Homo sapiens: one gene and its partner. The protein of the gene in region 2 purifies or fractionates together with the protein of the main gene of each other region. This does not show direct contact. Each region holds a gene or a part of one and is shown on either strand. Other genes may lie near its edges. The genes, in order: ALDOB and OR12D3.

What was found.
Region 1: the proteins of OR12D3 (region 2) and ALDOB purify together in Homo sapiens (affinity purification with mass spectrometry; one large-scale study listed by BioGRID and IntAct). This does not show direct contact.

What each region holds. Positions count from the first base shown.
Region 1 is NC_000009.12:101,419,898-101,423,089, forward strand, and holds the end of ALDOB (fructose-bisphosphate aldolase B), read right to left. Parts: intron 2,008-3,192; coding exon 1,912-2,007; 3' UTR 663-1,911; downstream 1-662. UniProt on the Homo sapiens protein: Catalyzes the aldol cleavage of fructose 1,6-biphosphate to form two triosephosphates dihydroxyacetone phosphate and D-glyceraldehyde 3-phosphate in glycolysis as well as the reverse stereospecific aldol addition reaction in gluconeogenesis.
Region 2 is NC_000006.12:29,372,836-29,376,869, forward strand, and holds OR12D3 (olfactory receptor 12D3), read right to left. Parts: upstream 2,457-4,034; 5' UTR 2,453-2,456; coding exon 1,502-2,452; 3' UTR 588-1,501; downstream 1-587. UniProt on the Homo sapiens protein: Odorant receptor.

The DNA of each region.
Region 1 (3,192 bases), on a different chromosome or scaffold from region 2:
AAAATATCTAAAGAATTCAGCGATGCTGAGTAGGATCTAGATAAAAACTATCTGGCAGAAAAGCTTTGTCTCACAAGGTGTTACCTACCTGCTTTTAGGACAGCTTGGCACATAGTAGGAGATGAAGTGCTTGATGATTGACTGAAATGTACAAGGAGAAATGTACAAGACTACACCACGGGTGGCAGAGATATTGAACACAGCCTGTCACCTTGCCCTGTAAGATCTCTGGCTGTGTATCCACTTTTTGAGCAAGAGACTTGAGTTCAGAAGACCTGAATTTTAATCTCTCAGCTCTGCTATAAATGTGGGATCCTCAGTAAGTAATTTTACTTCTCTGGACTTGGTTTTATCACCTGTAAAATGAAAACCGTGGGCTTAATAGATCTCTCATATAGGCTTGAGTTGCTTGTATGACTGTCTGTAGTTGTTTTTAGAAAAGTAATGACAAGTACATGGAAATAAATATTCAAATACTGTAGAGGGCAGGTAATAAGGAAATGTCATCTTTCCTGTGCCCTGACTCCCAGGTCTTTCTCCCAGGTCTTAGAGTAAGCCCCTTTGGCTAATTCTGTCTTATTCCTCTAAATAATATGTTAAGTCTCTGTTTCTTCATTTGTTAATCTACACAATACCATTTGTCTTTGTATTATTCAAGGTAAGAAATTTAGCATACTACCATCAATATTTTAATTTTAGATATATATTTTTATGATTTACATCCATTTCTTTTATTACTTAAATAGAATTAAAGCACTATTTCTTAACCCATCAGTTTTAAGTAGTATTCCTGACTCTCTTTGCTTTCTTCCACTTCTCCTCCCCCTTATATTTCCTAGCTTCTGTCAGTTAAATCATCACTTTTATATTGTCCAAAGTTATAATATTTAAATTCTCTTTTATAACTCTGGTTGTCTTAAGTGCTGTAACTATAGGTTAATTCTGAAAATTGAAAGTCAATACAGTATCATTATGTGAATATTATTTACTGCAAAACTACGAAATATGCCTGGACGTGCAGATGACAAGGTAGTCCTGTTTCACCAAACCTGGGCCACTTGAACAAGAATGCTCCAAGCATTGAAGTCACATTAATTCTCTTATTATACTCCACAAGTTGCTCAAAATCATTCTACATTTTTAGCTGGCTTCGTATTGTGAATGGCTTTAATTTTCAAATACCCTCAAACTTGAAATTTAGATTGGTAGTTCTCAAACTTGACTGTACATTGGAATTACTGAGGGAGCTTTAAGAAATCTAATAGTTAGAGGATCCCAAGTCTAGGGTTTCTGATTTAATTGAGCTGGGGTGTGGCCTGAGCATCTCAGTTTTTAAAATTTTGCGGCTTGATTCCAATGACTAGCAAGAGTTGAAGACCTTTACTGTTGAAACCCAGTCATGTCTAGTAGAGTCAAAAGTAATGAAATACACTGAGTCTTTGGACAGCAAGAGCAGAAAAGTGAAACCCGATAGCAGCTGAAGGTTTATAGAATATTTATTTCTTTTTTGGTTGCAGCTATCTCCTTCCCAACCTACCACTGCTAAGACTGTTTCATAAGATGCACTTCTCTACACTCAGCTAATGAGGTGTTTCAATCAGCAGTTGTTCTTTGGATGAGGAGCCGATATTGTTTTAAAGCCTATTATTTTCTTGGGTGGGTATTCTGGAGCATGGGGAGCTGAAAGTGTTGCAAGGAAACTGCTGTGTGAAATTTGATCAGGTCCTTGGTATTCATTTTTATGTTTCAATAACTGATTTATTTTTTCCCCCTTGTACTTAAGATTTAACATGTGTTGTATTTCCAGCAGTTCAAATCTAATTGTGTCGAATTTCCAGGATTGGAGGAAAAGTTGCTCCCTTTCAGCCCTCCTACTAGAAGCACTGGAGCTAGGCTGGCGGGCATTGGACCCTAGTAGGTATAGCAGGCTGTGAAGAGCGACTGGGTGGAAGCAGCCCCAGAAGAACCCGTGTGAACATACTGTCCTTTGGCCGCCTGGCAGTTAGCCTAGAAGACAAATATGAGAGAGGAGACTGGTTAGAGTAAATGTGACCCCACCTTGACCCTGTCTGCCTCTCATGGGAAACCAGTCAAACCTTCACTCAGATTTTCTTCTTTTTACAGCAATGTTGCTGAATATTGCTGGGGATACCATCCCCTTCTATAAAGTATCTCCCCTTTTTATCCCAGTTTTCTGAGCATTTCTTTGGTAAGCTTGAGGTTTGTGTCAGTTACTGGGGAAATCTCTGTTCAGTACCAACAATATTGCAGCAACAGTACTAGAAACTAAAGTTGAAAAATTTCTCACTAGTATAGTACACTATACCAAAAGAAAAACATGTTTATTTTAAAAACATTTCCATTTTCTACCTATATTGGTCTAGAAGAATATGTAATTTTTATTTAGTTATTGTAGTATCATTTGCTTTCCTGTATACATTCCAGTTAAAGATAAATTCAGAATTATGAAACTTACGACAATATTTGAATGTCACTCAGTGGTACCACTTCTTCCAGTCAGTGTTGCTATTGTCTGTTCTCTCCAGGACTTATTTCTACATTTTACATCAATGGTTCTCCAACTGTGTTTCATGGTCTACCAGCATCCCTTAGGAACATGTTAAAAATAGAAATTCCCTGGCCTTACCCCTGACCTACTGAATTAGAAACTCAGTGGGTGAGACCCATAATCTGCATTTTTAACAAGCGCTTCAAGTGGGGGTAGGGGAAATGAAAAGAGGTTGGTAATGGGTACAAAAATACAGTTAGGCAGAAGGAATAAGTTCTAGTGTTTGATACAACAGTAAGATGACTATAGTTAACAATGATTTATTACATATTTTAAAATAGCTGGAAGAGAAGATTTGGAATGTTCCAAACCCAAAGAAATAATAAATATTTGGAGTGAATACCCTAATTATCCTGATTTGATCATTATACATTATATGCATATATAAAAAATCACAGATACCCCACAGATCTATACAATTATTGTGTGTAAATATAAAAGATCATGACAACAAAACCAAAATCACCTTCAGGTGATTCAGATCCACACTGGAGCTTGGGAAGCACCATCCTTGATGATAAACTCAGCTTCCCTTCTTCTGTGTGGATGTCCCTGATGACCTGCGCTTTCACAATCCCTCCATCATGTAAGCTAGGTCTCCTCAGTCCATCAGCCACACAGCA
Region 2 (4,034 bases):
ACATCTCTTAAAAATAAGGGCAAAGTACTTTTTCATGCCAACAAAAGCTGAAGTAAATTATTACCAGCAGAACTTTACTACAAGAAATAGTTAAGGAAAGTCTTTAGACAACAACAACAAAAAAATGATACGAGATGAAAATCAGTGTCTCCATGAAGGGACCAAAAGTGCCAGAAATTATAAATATGTGTTTAAGTGTAAAAGACATTTTTATTATTTTTAATTACCTTAAAAATAATAGAATTTTTCAAAAAAAACAGAATTGCAGTATCTTGGATACTAATAACATAAGTAAAAGTAAAATGTGTGACATTAAAATCACAAAGCATGAGCAGGGAGATGGAAGTACAGTATGGCATGACTCTAGCAATACATCTTAAATGGTGTAATATTATGTGAAGAAATATTTTGTGAATTTAAAATGTACATTGTAAACCCCAGAGTAACCACAAAAATATAAAATAAAAAGGTATAAATAAAAGGACAATAGTGAAAATATAATGAAATCATAAAAATATTCCCATAAAAAACAGTAAATGAAAGAAGAAGCAATAACGGACAAATAGGACAAATGAAAGGCAAACAGTTGGAGGACAAATTTAAATTTAATTCTATCAAAAATTTAGTTGGAGGATAAATTTAAATTTAATTCTATCAAAAATTTATCAAATTTAAATTGTGCAAACACTCCAACTGAAACAAAGAGCTTGTCACATTGGCTTAATGGGTATGAAAATGCAGTTAGATAGAATGAAGAACTTCTAGTATTCAACAGTAAACTAATGCAGGGACAGTAATGTAGGTTTAGCTTGATTGTGGTAGTCTCTTCACAATGTATACATATACTAAAGCATCATGTTGTGAAGCCTAAATATATGCAATTTTTATTTGTTAATTATACTTCAATAAGCTGGGGAAAAACAAGATATTTTCAATGGCTAGAAAAATCTCTCCCTAAAATTAAATACCCATTAAAAATTCTCTTCAAGAATTAAGATTAACAAAAATGATATTCTAGATAAAAACTGTTGTGAGAAAAATTATCATCAGTACTTTCCTGCTGAAGGAAACACAAAAGGAAAAAAAATAGGCAAAAATAAAGATTATCTCATATGGAATTTCAGTAAGATACTTCTATTACTTGGAAAATTCCAAAGGTTTTTGTCCTAGGAGAAATGCCACATTCTTTTTTACACAGCAGATTCCTACTCTAACCCTCCCCATACTTCCTACCTCCTTAGTTCTCCTTGCCACCGAATTATCCTGACATATGTACTTACGCGTTTGGTTATTTGGGGCCTCCATCACATTAAACTTTATGTTTGATGACATTATGGAATTTGTTTTGCTTGCTCCTGTGTTTCTTGAACCTACTACACTGCCTAATATAATATGTGCTCAAAATTTTTGAAAGAAAAATATAAACCAGGTAAACAAATCATTTCTTACAGTGAAGTGATGGAAATCAGTCTTAATAGAAATCAGATATCCCTCATTAGTCCTAGTGGTGTTGCTGCCAGTCTTTAAACAACTTCCTACCAAAGATTTTCTTCAGAGCCATCATCACTTCTTTGTTCCTAAGGGTGTAGATTAGTGGATTCAGTACAGGGGTGACGGCGCTATACATGATGGCCATTATCCGGTCCTGAATCATGGAGGTGGCTGAAGCAGGACGAATATATGTGAAGCCCACAGGTCCATAGAAAAGACATACCACCATAAAATGGGAGGCACAAGTGGACAGAGCCTTGTGGAGTATTCTGCAGGACCTGTTCTTAAACAGAAGGAAGCCAATTACATAGAAGCAGGAGAGAAGAGTCAGAAAGAAAGCTCCCATGGATATGCTGCCTGTGACAATGGAAAGAAGCCATTGATTGAGTAATGTGTCACTACAGGCCAATTCTAAGAGCGGCTTGACATCGTAGAAGAAGTGATTGAGTTTCTGAGAGCCACAAAAACTCAGGTGTGCAGTCATGACAGAATGCATCAGAGCGTAAAAGAAGCTGATGAGCCAGGCCGCAGCTGCCAACAGAATACACACCTGGGGGTTCATGATGACAGTGTAGCGAAGAGGATTGCAGATGGCAACAAAACGGTCAAAGGCCATGATAGCCAGTAAAATGGCCTCTGTGCTTCCCAAAAAGTGGAAGAAGTGTAGCTGGGTGATACAGCCTAGAAAAGATATAGCCCTGCGACTGCACACGAGGTTTACGAGCAGCTTGGGCAGTGTCACTGAAGAATAAGAAATATCCAGACAAGAAAGGTTTCCCAGAAAAAAATACATAGGGGAGTGGAGTTGTGGTTCCAAAACAACCATCACCAATATAGATCCATTTCCAATCAAGTTTATCAGGTAAATGATTAAGAAAATCCCAAAGAAGAAAGGCTGCAGCTCCTGAACACCAGTCAGGCCAAGTAGAAGAAACTCATTCATTGTAGTGACATTCTCCATTGCTCTGGGAAGCAAATTTAACAATAACAGAATTAATTTTTCTGAATTTTTAATTTTACACTGTGAGGATTAAATAAAGCAAGTTTACTATTTGGAGGAACCTAGGGGTGAGCAACAGTGTGAAGAATAGTTACGAACAGTAAAACTAAATTTATGTACAACAAAATTGAGGAAGACTAATATACCTGATAAATTCTGAGCTGTTAAAATGGCACTAGACTAATAAAAGCATTATATTATGAACAAATCAGATATAGATAAAGGGCATTTGTTTTCAAAACTAGGAAGTGCAAGATTTGATGGACATAATCATAACCTCATGTATGGCATTAGAATTATGTATTACAAAAATTTTAAACATACAAACAGGGAATAGTTTTTCAACTTATGATTCTAGGTTCTGGCAAAAATTCAGATGTAGCTCAGTGGGGATTTCATCACTTCTTCTAAGATACATAAAAGCCACAAGAGAGTAACACATGTCTTCTGACAACCCAAACTTTCAGTGAAAGTAAGAAACATAAACACCCACAAACCAAATGTTGTATGAGTAGAGGAGAAAAAAACAGCAAAATTAGCATCATTAGTCACAAGACTGTGTCATAGCAATGAGGCAGTGGATGTAGTTGGGAAAAACTTGAAATAGTTAGAGGTCCCATTAGTAGAAGAACTTCGAAAACACCCCCAATTTTTCAATCCAAAAGGGGAGTACCTCCCAGGGAGTGAGAATTTCTGTGGGGCAGGGGATAGAAAAAGGCACAGTCTAAGCACTGAAGGTGATGGAGAGAAGAGGTATAGTAAATATATGAAGAACAAAGGAAGCTTGTCATTTGTAAGTAATTAATAATAATAATAATAATAACAATAATAATAATCACCACCTTATCAACAGAAGAGGGAGCCCTTGCACTGAGGAATTGGAAAGGCTAACTAGGATACTCCTCCCACCCATGCCTACTAAGATTCTTCTGCTAATAATTGGTCCACAATATCATAAGTTCTCCAGTGTAAGTTCTCCATAAAATAACTCTAAAAATAGACAGAAATAAAGACATAGTTAAAACCACAATCACAATGAGAAGATTTAACAAGTTTCTCTCTATACCTGACAGAAGAATCAGCCAAAAAGTCAGTAAGGATATAAACATCTGAACAACATAATTTACAAATTTGATTAACATATAAAGAACACTGAACCCAACCAAAAAATAATTCACATTATTTTCAAGTATATCTTGTACATATTTACAAAATCAAGCATGAGTTGAGTATTACCAAAAGGCTTCAAAAGGTTTCAAAAGGTTGAGCTATTCAAAGAATGTCCCTTGACCACACTGGAATTAAAAAACAATAAGAAAAATGCATCTAGAAACTCACCAATTGCTTCATATTATGTAATACACACAAATAATTCATAAAGAAAAAATTCAAATAAAATTAGAAAAAAATTGAAATGAACAATGATGAAGATGAGATATATCAAAACTTTTGGCATATAGCTAAAGAAATAAATAGAGGGAAATTGTCAGCCTTAAATGCATATGTTAGAAAAAAAGAAATATTGAAAAACCAATAACCTAAA